4 linked regions of the Homo sapiens genome follow. The protein of the gene in region 2 purifies or fractionates together with the protein of the main gene of each other region. This does not show direct contact. Each region holds a gene or a part of one and is shown on either strand. Other genes may lie near its edges.

Region 1 (3,500 bases), on a different chromosome or scaffold from region 2:
GAACCACCGTGCCCAGCCTGAGATTTTGTTTTAATTGCACCCTAGCAAGTTGCTGGTTATCTATGGTGCTCCTGATATAGAACGATAGTTAAAAACATGAGAATATTCTATTTTGGAAGTGTCTTCAGAACTATATAGTGTCATGCCTGATATTAAAGGTAGTCCTTAATATGAAACCCAGGTTTTTTTTTAAAAGGTAATCCTGTCTAAAGGCTTCAAGGAGAGGACTTTTTTTTTGTACCATAAGTTACATTCTGTCCAAATGTAAGAGGAATTTTTTCATTAGACTCATCTTCAGCTAATTGTTTTGTGTGTTCTCTGCTAGTGAGGTGGAATGACTATTAATCTGTTACCACCTCTCTTTTTATTTATGTATATATTTGAAATGATAGAGAGGTCACAAAATTATTCTTTTTTGCAGAGGAAGACTTAGAGGGCAAAACAGAGGAAGAAATAGAAATGATGAAGTTAATGGGATTTGCCTCCTTTGACTCCACAAAAGTAAGTAAAACGTGCAACATTCTCATTTGAATTAATATGTTATGACTGTCCTATCTTTCCATGTTCTTTTCCATTTATACAAATTTATTTGGTTATAAGACAATAACTATCTGTTTGAAGGGCTTTGAGAATACAAAGGAGGAAACAGTGAACTGCCATTGGAATTCAGGGAGTGGTTGCCAGGGACGATGTTTGAATTAGATTTTAAAGGACAAGTAGAAGTGATCAGACAAAGAAGAGGAAGAAGATTATTTCAGGTAGAGGGAAGAGCTCATGAAAATGCCATGTAGGTGTAAAGGAGCATAGTGTATTGTGGGAATTTCAGATTCGACCAGGGATAAAGGGGTGCTGATGGGCTAGTGACTTAGGCTAGAAATAGAGGTAGGAGGCAAATCACAGAGGGCTTTTGATGCCCTTAGTCATGCTAAGGAATTCAGAGTTTATTCTTTTGGTGTTGAGGAGAGGAAGTAGTGATTTTTAAATAAGGGAGTGGCATGGTTATATGTGTGTTTTGGAATAATGACTCTGGGGGCAGCATGGAGGACAGATGGGAGGTGGGTTAGATTGAAGGCAGGGAGAACTGCTGATTTGTGCAAGTGAAAGATGATAAAGGCCTGAACTGAGTTGAGAATGATTCAGGAGCTGGGGGAAGTGGGAGTGAGTAGTTAGTAATGCCTCTCAGGTGTCAGGCTGGGACCCTGAGTGATACAGTTAACCCAGAACAGAGTTTCTGGAAGGGGAACTGCTGGGAAATGGAAGAACAAAATCCAGCTGCCAGATAGAGATGACATTGGGCAGCTGCATACTTGTCTCATAGCTTAGAAGTGGGGTGGATAGGGGAGGGAATGCTGTCTAGCCTTCATAATAGCAGAGAGATGAGGGAAGAGGAAAAAGAGGGAGGGATTATATAGAGGAGGGAGAGCATAGAGCGAGAGATGGGGGAAGAGAGAGATGGGTATAGAGAGAGGAAATGAAGAGAGGAGAGGGGATGGAGAGAGGGAGGGTGTGTGGAAAGAAAAACATATTTTTTAAAATCTCTTTTCTAGAATTTTAAGTCTTTCCATTTAGTTTTGCAAATGGAAATAGAGATGTTTGAGAAAAAGTTGTCAAAAATAATCCACTTTCCCAAGTCTTGTATTCCATTGAGTTGCTAATGGAATGGGGTAATCTCAGTGGCTGTAAGTTTCTTTCTAACTAATGTGACTGTGTAGGGCTCACATGTTTTAAAATGACAGTGTGTAACTTAGGAGTACTGAGGCATGACTGTTTTGAGGTGAGAAATTAAGAACAAGCTCTTGTTCTTGCAATGGTTATGTGAGCTCTGTTTTGGAATTTAATGAAGTTTATTTATCAGCTTTTTTCCCTTGAATGCCCTAAATTCTTATTTATTTTCCAAAGACTATTTTATAAATGAAAGTTTATTAAGATATATGTTGGGTGAAATGTAAGTTTATTAAGATATATGTTGGGTGAATTAAAATATGTCAAAAGTAAAGCAACTATAGTTTTATTGTCTTTAGAAGAATGGGGAGGGAACTTTTTCCCCAAAGAAAATGGAATTATTTTCTTTGTTTTTTGGTTTTCCTGTTGCTGGATGTTAGGTTTAAAGTTCCTGAAAGTCAGATCTAAGGGTGGTGCCACCCATCACTTAAATGTAGTCAGTGAAGAAGATGTTTGCTTATAAAGGAAAACTTAGGTGAAAAGTCATAGATCTTAAAAAAATTATGGAGTACCATCACACTAATTGATGTCAGTTTTTTAAAATGACATCTACAAGGATGTCAATTTAGTTTATATGCAGTTGGCTTCATGGCTATCAGTTATAACGTCAGCTCATTTGTGTTTTTAAGTAATGTGTGTCTTGTGATGTTTCATCATTGATCTATTGTGGGACCTCTTCATATGCCAGTATAGTCACCCATTTTCCTTTCTATTTGATTGTATTTTCATTTTTTTATTTGTATTATTTTTTATTTTAATTTTATTTTTTCGAGACAGAGTCTCGCTCTGTTGTCCAGGCTGGAGTGCAGCGGCGCAATCTCGGCTCACTGCTACCTCCGCCTCCTGGGTTCAACCGATTCTCCTGCCTTGGCCTCCCAAGTTGCTGGGATTACAGGCGCCTGCCACCACGCCTGGCTAATTTTCGTATTTTTAGTAGAGATGGGGTTTCGCCATATTGGCCAGGCTGGTCTCGAACTCTTGGCCTGAAGGGATCCACCTGCCTTGGCCTCCCAAAGTGCTAGGATTACAGGCGTGAGACATTGCGCCCGGCCTCATTTTTTAGTTTTTTAGAGACAGGGTCTTGTTTTGCCACCCATACTGGAGTACAGTGGTATGATCATGGCTCACTGCAGCCTGACCTCCTGGGCTGAAGCAATTTCCCTGCCTTAGCCTCTGGAGTAGCTGAGAGTAGGCACATGCCGCCACGCCAGGATAATGTTTTTATTTTTTGCAGAGATAGGGTCTTGCTGTGCTGCCTAGATTGGTCTTGAACTCATGGCCTCAAGAAATCCTCCTGCCTCAGTCCATTTTTTTTTTTTTATTTTTGAAGAGACAGAGTCTTCCTATGTTGTCCAGGCTGTACTCAAACTCCTTGGCTCAAGAAATCCTCTTGCCCCAGCCTCCCAAGTAGCTGGGACTGTAGCCTCACAGCAATGTGCTTGGCTTTTCCCTTTCATCTTATTAGATTGGTGGAAAAGTAATTACAGTTTTTGCCATTGAAAATAATGGCTAAAACTGCAATTACTTCAATAACATTTTTCTAGATGGTTTCAAAGTTTGGTTTTGTTTATTAATGGATAATTTTCTATGCCAGCATGTAAATAAATGAGGATAGGGCTAATAATATGCAATTCTGCAAATAGTTTCCAGAAATCAGTAAACCTTTAGGAATCGAACTTTGTAAAAAGGTTATCATCATTTACTTTTTTGTGCCCAAGACCAGTCTTTCTAAGTCATGCTTACTTCCTATTATAGGGAGTTCAAAATCATATACCTCA
Region 2 (3,500 bases):
CTAGACTTATAAAATTTGAGAACCTTTTACAATAGTATATTTAAATTATTTTTATAAACTGTGATATTTTGTGGTAGTTCATTGAAAAGAGTACTTCACTTTGGAGCTAAATAGACTAGGATTTTAATTCTGGCTCTGTTCTTACTGTGTGACACTGGACAGGTCACTTAATCTTTCTGAGCCTTAGTTCCCTCACTTGAGAAATGAAGATATCTAAATACATATTACAGGTTAGTTGTAAGAATAGAAGTATCAATATAGCAACTAGTACTATGTCTGACATATAGTTACTTAATAATTAGAAACTTTTTATTAGCTGTGGGTCTTTTTGTTTTTCGTCTGATAATTACAGATACAAAGTAAGTACCGGATTAAAATTTTTTTCTATCTTATGATTATTTTCATTGGAGATACAATAGTCTTTAAAATTTTAGCTCAACTGACCAGTTTTGTACGTGTAAGGTGATTCTTCTGTTTTTTTGTATGTGTGCATGCTGAAGATTTTTTATTTTGAGAACTCAGGTTCCTCTTTTGCTTTTAAAAATCACACACACACACACACACACACACACACACACACTTCAAATAATTAAATTGCTTTTTCTCTTTTTAAACATTTTACTTGGTTATACCTGTATAGTTTAGTCCAGTAAACCAGGAGAGCACATAAAGATGAGGATTTAATTTTAGTATTAATGATCTCAAAGCTGGTTAATGTCTGACAATGAGCAGATACATGATGCAGGTATACTTCATGAATTTGTCTCATTTCTTGTTAGAAGCTGCTAGACTCAGTGAGCTTTAATTTGCTGAGACTGACAAAATGCAGATTTTCACTGAACCTGACTAGCTGGTTTTCAACATAAACTTTTGACACATAACAATATGCTTATATTGACACTATGTATACCTGTGCATTGCCTAGAAGTAGGAACATGGAAAAAAGTGATCCAGGCACCCAAGTTTAAGTTTGGAATTGATAGAGTGTCAGGGCTGATTTAAAAAGAGAGTTTAGGTCTTGATTTATAAATTTCCTAGGTTCAGAGTTCTTTTGAGCATGGATTACCTGTATCTTACAGATAAAAGTTGTTTAAAATTTATTCTGTCTTGAAGACACACTGCAGTAAGTTTACTTTTATCAATATTTAAAAGAAAATTACCATAAGTATGCTAGGGACTGTTAATTCTGATGCATTTAAACTTTTAGTTTTGCTTAGAAAACTTACTTATACAGATTTTTTTTAAAGAAATTCAAGCTTTTCATATGTATTGTATTATCATTCCTCGTGTTTTAGCTGCAACAAATATGAAGTGGATTGAAGCTAAAATGAAAGTAAGTGTTAGAAAGCAATCCATTTAAAAATATTTTCAAACTGCATTTGTCTTGTTAAAAGTTCTAGAACTGAATTAATTTTATTCTTACTGGAGGGCACTTAGTAGATAGATAAATGCCATTATTGGGAGTAGAGGTGTTTTTAAAGTGTGTTTAATAAGTGGATTGTACTGAATCCCTAAGTCTTTTTTAAGAAAAAGTATAACTAAGCTTGTCCCCTCCCCCACATTCTTCCTCATTTTACAATAATACTTTATTTTCCTTCTTTTGCTCTAGTGTGCAATACTTAAAGAGTCAGTATTCTCCTAAAATGGTAAATTAGGAAGTAATCTATTTCTATTTTCCTTGGTTTACCATTTATTGACTTGGCTAAGTGAAACTAAAATACTTCCTAGTTGTTTAGCAAGATGTAGTGGCCAGTGGTGTAGAAAGTTGGCATTATGAGAAATTGCAGCTAGAATATTCAGAAAATCTGAAATTTTCCACACTACTATGTTTTAACCTCACAAATATTTGTGTTTATAGGAGCTGGGAGTGAGCACAAATGCAAATTATAAGATTACTTTCATGTTGGATAGTGCTGCTATGATAACAGTACATACTCCAAGGAGAGGATTAATAGACGTAAGAAGTCATTTTATTTCTATTTAATGACACCATGGTTATTTTCCAGTGTACTTTTTATGTTTATACCTATGGAGTAAATAGTGTAGAGATTCATCTGAGTGAATAATAAAGTGGTTGAGTTTTGACATAGGAAAATGTATTTAAGGTTAAAAGATTTTTTTTTTTTTTTTTTTTTTTTTTTGAGATGGAGTCTCATTGTGCCGCCCAGGCTGGAGTGCAGTGGTGCAATCTCGCTCACGCAAGCTCCGCCTCCCAGGTTCACGCCATTCTCCTGCCTCAGCCTCCTGAGTAGCTGGGACTACAGGCACCCGCCACCACGCCCGGCTAATTTTTTCGTATTTTCAGTAGAGACGGAGTTTCACTGTTGTTAGCCAGGATGGTCTCGATCTCCTGACCTCGTGATCCGCCTGCCTCGGCCTCCCAAAGTGCTGGGATTATGGGCGTGAGCCACTGTGCCCAGCCAAGGTTAAAAGATTTGAATTTTAATGATAAAATTAGGGATCTTGAAGTAGGACTGTCAAGAAAGGAACTTGTGATTGTGGGTAATTGACCTGTGTTGATGACAGCACAATGTTACTGGGCAGAGTAGGTGAGAAAAATACTGAATATTATCAAGGAAGATACTAGAAACAAGCGAAAACACTCACCCTGCCCTGTTTGAAACTGGTAATAAAAGCAGATGCATCATGATGCATGTACTTTGGGATGATGCTGAAGAATAGCAACAAGAACAATCAGAGAAAAGGGTTTGGCTAACCAGTTATTTTACTCATCAAGTAACTACTCATACTATTAAGTATCTACTGTCTGGAAGGCCCTGTGATAGGCACTGTTGGGAATAAAGAGATGAGTGAGACACAGTCCATATCATTTGAAAGCACCCAAACTGTTAGCTGGGCTGGATAATGCATGCCTGTAATCCCAGCTACTCAGGAGGCTGAGGCAGGAGAATTGCTCAAACCCAGGGGGCGGTGGTTGCAGTGAGCTAAGATTGAGCCACTGCACTCCAGCCTGGGTGACAGAGCAAGATTCTGTCTCAACAAAATAAAGTAAAATAAAAGCACCCAAACTAATAGGAATTGAGGAGAACTTAGGATACGAGGAAACCTTAGGGGAGACAGTATTAAAATTATCAAAACCATAAATAGAATGATTTAAGGGCATGGGGACTTGTTCTATAAAGGAAATACTGCATGTATCGAGAAAAAGATAACTTACTATATACTAAAGTAAAATAATACATTTACAAAATCTTAACATTAAAAATTACTTAGGGAAATGTTAAACATGTTTTATAACAGTGAAAAATTAAAGGAATAAAAATAATCCTCAATATCCAGCAATAGGGCATTGGATATATAAATTACTGCTACCCATATAAGGGACTGTAGCTCGTCATTTGATGTAGTAGGATATGTAATGATTTAGAAATTTTCATGACACATTTAAGTGAAAGAAGTATTTTAGAGAACACTGTTGTAAGCCGTTAGAAAATAGTTCTTAACCTTTGTTTGGTTCAGGATTACCCTTAATTTAACAA
Region 3 (2,421 bases), on a different chromosome or scaffold from region 2:
AATGACAATGAGATACCACCATATATTCACATTATGGCTAAAATTAAAGATTGACAACACCAAATGTCAGCAGGGATGTGGAACAGCTGTGATCACATACATTGCTGGTAGGGAAGGTATATGGTACCACCATTTTGGAAAACAATTTGGCCGTTTCTTACCAAGTTAAACACATACCTATCTTTTGACCCAGTAATTCCACTCCCAGATATTTGTCCAAGAAAAATGAAAACATATGTTTGCAAAACAATGTAGACACGAATGTTCATAGCAACTTCATTCACGATAGCAAAAAATCGAAAACAAGGCTGGGCAAAGTGGTTCATACCTGTAATCCCAGCATTTTAGGAGGCTGAGGCAGATGGATCACCTCAGGTCAGGAGTTTGAGACCAGCCTGGGCACCATGGTGAAACCCCACCTCTACCTAAAATACATAAAATGAGCCAGGTGTGGTGGTGTGCACCTGTAATCCCAGCTACTAGGGAGGCTGAGGTGGGAGAATCGCTTCAACCTGGGAGGCAGAGGTTGCAGTGAGCCGAGATCATGCCACTGCACTCCAGCCTAGGCAACAGAGTGAGACTCTGTCTAAAAAAAAAGGAAAACAACCAAAATACCCACTAACAAAAGAATCGGTAACAAATTGTAGTAAATTCATACAACAGCATGTGCTCAGCAAAACAAAGGGAGGAATTGCTAACAGGCTCAGTACCACGGGTGAAGCTCACAGGTAAGAGGCCAGAAACAAGTGAGGACATACAGAAGAGTTCCTTATAGAATTCTAAGACAGGCAAAACTCATCTAAGGTAAACAAACAAACAAACAAAAAGTCAGAACAATGTTACTCTTCTCACCTGGAGGGAAGGGTGGGGATAGGGGAGATTGGAAAGGGGTAAAAAGGAAACTGGGGGCTTTCCCAGTTTCCAATAACTGGGATGATGTGAATTTCACAGACGTATCTATTTGTCAAAAATGTATATCTAAGATTTGTAAATTTCAATATATGTGAATTATACCTAAAAATAGTAAAAATAATGTTAGCGATAACTAAACGATGTGTGAGAGTACAGGAATAAATAAAATAAGAATGTTGATAGTTGTTCAAGCTAAGTAATGAAGTTCGTTATCTGATTCTGTTACTTTGTATGTTTTCAAAATTTTCCACAATTTAAAAAAAAGAAGAAAAGAAACAAGGTAGGCAGTAAAATGAAAGATGAAGTAGCAAGAGAGTGCTTTTGACCAAAAGTATTTGCACTCCATTTCCCAGCCTTTCATGCTTATTACAAAGGCTGAAAATTACACAAGAGAAACCTCGTTTTGACTAATGTAATTTCTTGGCTATCACTAATTTTGAATAGTGATAGCCAATCATTCACTACCAATATTCTGAGATCAGAATCCAAGCTACAGAGAGCATTATAGACTTTTTAGTCAAACTTTTAAATTTAAAAACCTCACTCTTCAAGATCTGGTTGTTCCCATTTCATTTCTCATTGCACCGGGCTCACACCTCAAATCCAAGCATGCTGCTTATGCCTCTTCGCTCTTGTTCCTTTACTGATCGCTTCCCTTTAATAACTCCTCTTCTCCCTCCCTTTCTGTCTGCTCCTCTGTCCCCTTTGCCTTGCTCTGCCAGAGATGTCTCTTTTTTAAAAAATCAGTTTAGGTATCATCTCCTCTATGAAGTCATTCATTGTACCCATAATACTTGATTGTACTTATTTTCCCAACTGAAGACAAAGAGTTGTCTTCAGCTCTTTGAGGGCATGGACCATGTCTTATTAGAACATAACTCAATGAATATTGGCTCAACAAATTAATTTCATAGATTACAATTTCAGAGGTTAACTCTGTCCTCATGTTCACAATAGAGTAGCAGAGCTACAGCCAGAACCTAAACCTGTTGAATGTATCCACTAAAACAGTGCCTCATAGAAAAGGCAAACTGAAAACCATTATTTGCCTAATCTTGCAGTTTTCAGTTTTTATACCATAGGACACAAAGATCATTATGTTAAATTACCCCTGTCTCATCTATGCCTATTTTTTTCAAGTGCTGGGCCTTCCCACATGTTAAGCATCCGCTACTGGAGAGAAGAGAATCAGAGAAATAAGACTTAGGTTTCTAGTGCAAGGTATCTATAAATTATGTTTCTGAAACCTTATTCGGCACTCTCCAATCCAGCTTCTTATTTATTCAGGACTTATAATAACTACCAAATGTCAAGGCCACTGATTCAGCAAATGTTCATAAATCTATACTTAATTGGATTAAGATAGATCTAAAACTGCAATGATATAGAATTATGAATAGATTAATTCAAATTGATGAAAATAGTATTCCTCTATTTGTTAATTAAGCCCTATCTGGTTCTACAAATTTAAGCAAGCTAACAATAAAGAAAATAATAATAAGGTAAGAA
Region 4 (3,500 bases), on a different chromosome or scaffold from region 2:
AAACTCATAAACTCTGTGTTTGTTTTAATAATAATTGATGTATTTGTTTCTAGGGGCCACCTACAGATGCTCCTGCAGTGGACACAGCAGAACAAGTCTATATCTCTTCCCTGGCACTGTTAAAAGTAGGTAATGAATGTAGTTACTTGCTTTAGAGAACTCTGTTGCTTTCACTGTATCTTTTACTTTGGAATATTTGTCACCTTAATCCTCTCAGACATAAATAAGCTATTGTTTTAGGTACATTTATAAAAGGAGTTTTTATTTTCACTGGAACAAAATTTGGTTTTTGTTTTATAAAGAAGAACCAGAGACCTCAACGAAATTTGCTTTGTGTCCACATCTCTTCCTTTCTACAGATGTTAAAACATGGCCGTGCTGGAGTTCCAATGGAAGTTATGGGTTTGATGCTTGGAGAATTTGTTGATGATTATACCGTCAGAGTGATTGATGTGTTTGCTATGCCACAGTCAGGAACAGTGAGTACTTTTATGGTTGCCTGCTGCAAGTAAATGTGTTTCTTTTCATTTTTCTTTTCCTATGCAAACTAACTCTCATCATATTACATTTTCTCTTTCCAGTAGGAAAAATTAATCATAAGTTTGATAGAAATTTTTAGATTGTATTGAATTAAATCATTAATCTTTAAAACGCAGCATAACTTCTTATAGGTCTACAAACTGAATGATGCTAATGCTAAATTTCTTTTCTCAGTCCTTCGGCTTAAACTGGTGTAAAATACTGGATTTAAAAGTTACTTACCCTATAATAGCAGAGTGTTAGTTTGATTTTGAACCAAGTGTTCAAAAGATTTGAGATTCTCTTAATTTAGATTTTCAACTCACATATACTGGTTCTTATGTCTTGTTCCCATTGTTTTGAAATATGTCATTTAAAAAATGTTCTATATATGGTGATGAATGACTTTTTAAGCTTTTCTTATTTAAAATGTTAAGTTAAAGCAAAACAAAACAATAGCAAACCTGAATATTTTTTTCCCAGGCATGGTATTTTGTTTATATGCACCGTACTCCATACAAATTACCTGTATAGAATACATTATTCTTTCTAGAGATGTTTGTTTTGTTTTGCCTTTTTGTTTGATGCATTAGACTTGTGTTGATAGATGTGCATTTTGACTGAAAGAAAATAGCCAAAAAACAATAACCATTCCATCTACCTTCCAAAAAAAGCACATATATCCTTCTCACCTGTTTGCTTAGAAAAATATGCATGTATTTTTCCAAGCGATATTTCTTCTTTGCTAGGCAATATTTCTCTTACTGAGCCTTGTAAAAGAAGGATTAAAGAAATTGTTGTTATAAAGCTGTTAGTTCTATTCGAAGTTCTGTAAGTTTACTTTGATAAGGTAGATGCTGGAGAACAAATTACAATTTTAAGTACTGTAATATATATAGTATGTATATTAAAAATAAGCATTTAAAATAGAATATTTGCTACAGAATGCAATATATTTAAAATAATGTAAAGTTTTCTCTAAATAGATGAATTTGTTGAGGTAAACTAATTTGGATCTACTGATTTTATCCATCTTGATATCCATTATATTTATTTTATACATTTGGAAATAGAGAAACACTCTACATGTTAACCAAAGGTTTAGATTTAAATCTTAGACTATTTATTACTTGTATCTGTCTTTTTATATTAGGCTACATGAAACACATAAAACTAACTTATATATGTTATGGGTACTTATGTAGATACCCATTATAATACATTGTTCTTAGGCTTTAATATCATTACTTCCATGTAAATGCTTGTTTGACAATATAAAATAAAAGATTTTGATCCCTATATTCACTCTAATTCTATTTTCTAGTGTCATAGAATTAGAAAGTTTTTCTTCTGACCCCAGAGTCAGTAAACTTTTTCTATAAAGACATATGTCTCTGTTGCATATTCTTCTTCTTTTTTAAGACAGTCCTTTTAAAGTATATATATGAAAAGAAAGAAAAAAACCGAAAACATTCTTAGCCTATAAGCAGCAGATTGCATACCCCTGTTCTTGAGGATGTACTCTCTGTTGGAATTCAATATGCATACTGTTTGTTTTGGTGGGAAGGAAGTGCTTATGTTAACTAGTTTCTTTAAGTACATTAGATTTAGATTCCTGAGGTTAGAAGAAAGCCTTGGGAGCTATAAAGACAGTACTCTATCGCCAGAGAGATGATCTGAACCTTTTAATTCTTCCTGTTCAAATATCTTATTTTGGTTGAACTAGCAAAATAATGCTGTATGTAAGAGACTTGAGGCTGTTTCATTATGATAGCTGAATATTTGTAGAACTTTGGATGAGGCTCATTTTAGTCATCAGTTATGATAGGATGGCATTAGGAAGTATGCTTGCCTAAATAGGTCTAACCAATAGTTATGGTTGGTTCAATTATTTCGTATTTCTGGTAAACATATACACAGCAATGGCCATATACTCTTAAAGAATCCTGAAAGTGGGCTTAACTCGATCGCCAACAGCAGTTTGGTAGTTGGCAATTTTAGAAGCTTGATTGGTATGAGGTTTATAATTGAATGACTTGAGTAGGTATCAAATGTAGGTATCAAAACCTATAAAATGATTTTGGCAACCCCAAATAATATACATAGGGAAGCTTTTTTTCCAAATTTACAAAAATTAATAATTTTTCTTTCTTTCTAAATCAGGGTGTCAGTGTGGAGGCAGTTGATCCAGTGTTCCAAGCTAAAATGTTGGATATGTTGAAGCAGACAGGAAGGTAAGCATTTTAAATGATCAGTTAAAGAAATAATGGGAAATATTTATAGAAACATACCTCAAAGTTATAGATGTTTATCAATGTCATTTCTAGAAAAAGTGGTTATGTAATTGACATAAAAGTATCTGTAAATATCAGTGCCATGCACCACCTGTCTAGTATATCTTCCCTTTAGAACCAGAGAAATTTGCCCATCAGAGAACTGCCTCATGTTAAAATTCTTGACTGTCACATAGTAAGCTTGGGCTGTAGCTTCCCTCTGTTTAGCATATGGAGTTACTGTCTAGTCACTTATAATTGAAAGAGCTTGTATGTTCCATGTATTTGAGAGTTGCAACTGAATGAGATTATGAATATTTAATTATGTTTGTAGGCATAGTTTTAAAGACAGAGAAAGTATAATCCAAATATTCTAAAGTTTTTTCCTCAGACCAAATCTCTCAATAGTTGTCATTCTCTTGCTCAAATTCTTCTGCTGTGGAAACAACTTCAAAATTAATGTTAGCAAAAGGCTCAGCAGCTGAGCAGAACAGTGCAAATTGGTTTTTGACTGAGTTCCTAGTTCTACTGCTGGTTTAATTGATATTTAATCCTTTCACAACAGTGGATCCTGGTGTCCATTGTTAAAAATGTACTCTGTGCCTGGAAAATCCAACTCCCAGAGCTAAGGAGTTAAAGAGTAGATATTTACTTGAATGCTGAAAGGGTAAAAACTGGCTCTGAGAAACTGTGGTAACAAGGTGAAAA

Evidence for each region. The genes of interacting proteins can lie anywhere in the genome.
Region 1: the proteins of UBLCP1 (region 2) and SNRNP27 purify together in Homo sapiens (co-immunoprecipitation; one large-scale study listed by IntAct). This does not show direct contact.
Region 3: the proteins of UBLCP1 (region 2) and PEX7 purify together in Homo sapiens (co-immunoprecipitation; one large-scale study listed by IntAct). This does not show direct contact.
Region 4: the proteins of UBLCP1 (region 2) and PSMD14 purify together in Homo sapiens (affinity purification with mass spectrometry; 2 studies listed by BioGRID and IntAct, with this or other methods). This does not show direct contact.

The regions. Positions count from the first base shown.
Region 1 is NC_000002.12:69,896,956-69,900,455, forward strand, and holds part of SNRNP27 (U4/U6.U5 small nuclear ribonucleoprotein 27 kDa protein), read left to right. Parts: intron 1-421; coding exon 422-501; intron 502-3,500. UniProt on the Homo sapiens protein: May play a role in mRNA splicing.
Region 2 is NC_000005.10:159,273,290-159,276,789, forward strand, and holds part of UBLCP1 (ubiquitin-like domain-containing CTD phosphatase 1), read left to right. Parts: intron 1-1,295; coding exon 1,296-1,333; intron 1,334-1,858; coding exon 1,859-1,957; intron 1,958-3,500. UniProt on the Homo sapiens protein: Dephosphorylates 26S nuclear proteasomes, thereby decreasing their proteolytic activity. Recruited to the 19S regulatory particle of the 26S proteasome through its interaction with 19S component PSMD2/RPN1.
Region 3 is NC_000006.12:136,909,592-136,912,012, reverse strand, and holds part of PEX7 (peroxisomal biogenesis factor 7), read right to left. Parts: intron 1-2,421. UniProt on the Homo sapiens protein: Receptor required for the peroxisomal import of proteins containing a C-terminal PTS2-type peroxisomal targeting signal. Specifically binds to cargo proteins containing a PTS2 peroxisomal targeting signal in the cytosol.
Region 4 is NC_000002.12:161,367,425-161,370,924, forward strand, and holds part of PSMD14 (26S proteasome non-ATPase regulatory subunit 14), read left to right. Parts: intron 1-53; coding exon 54-125; intron 126-359; coding exon 360-479; intron 480-2,682; coding exon 2,683-2,753; intron 2,754-3,500. UniProt on the Homo sapiens protein: Component of the 26S proteasome, a multiprotein complex involved in the ATP-dependent degradation of ubiquitinated proteins.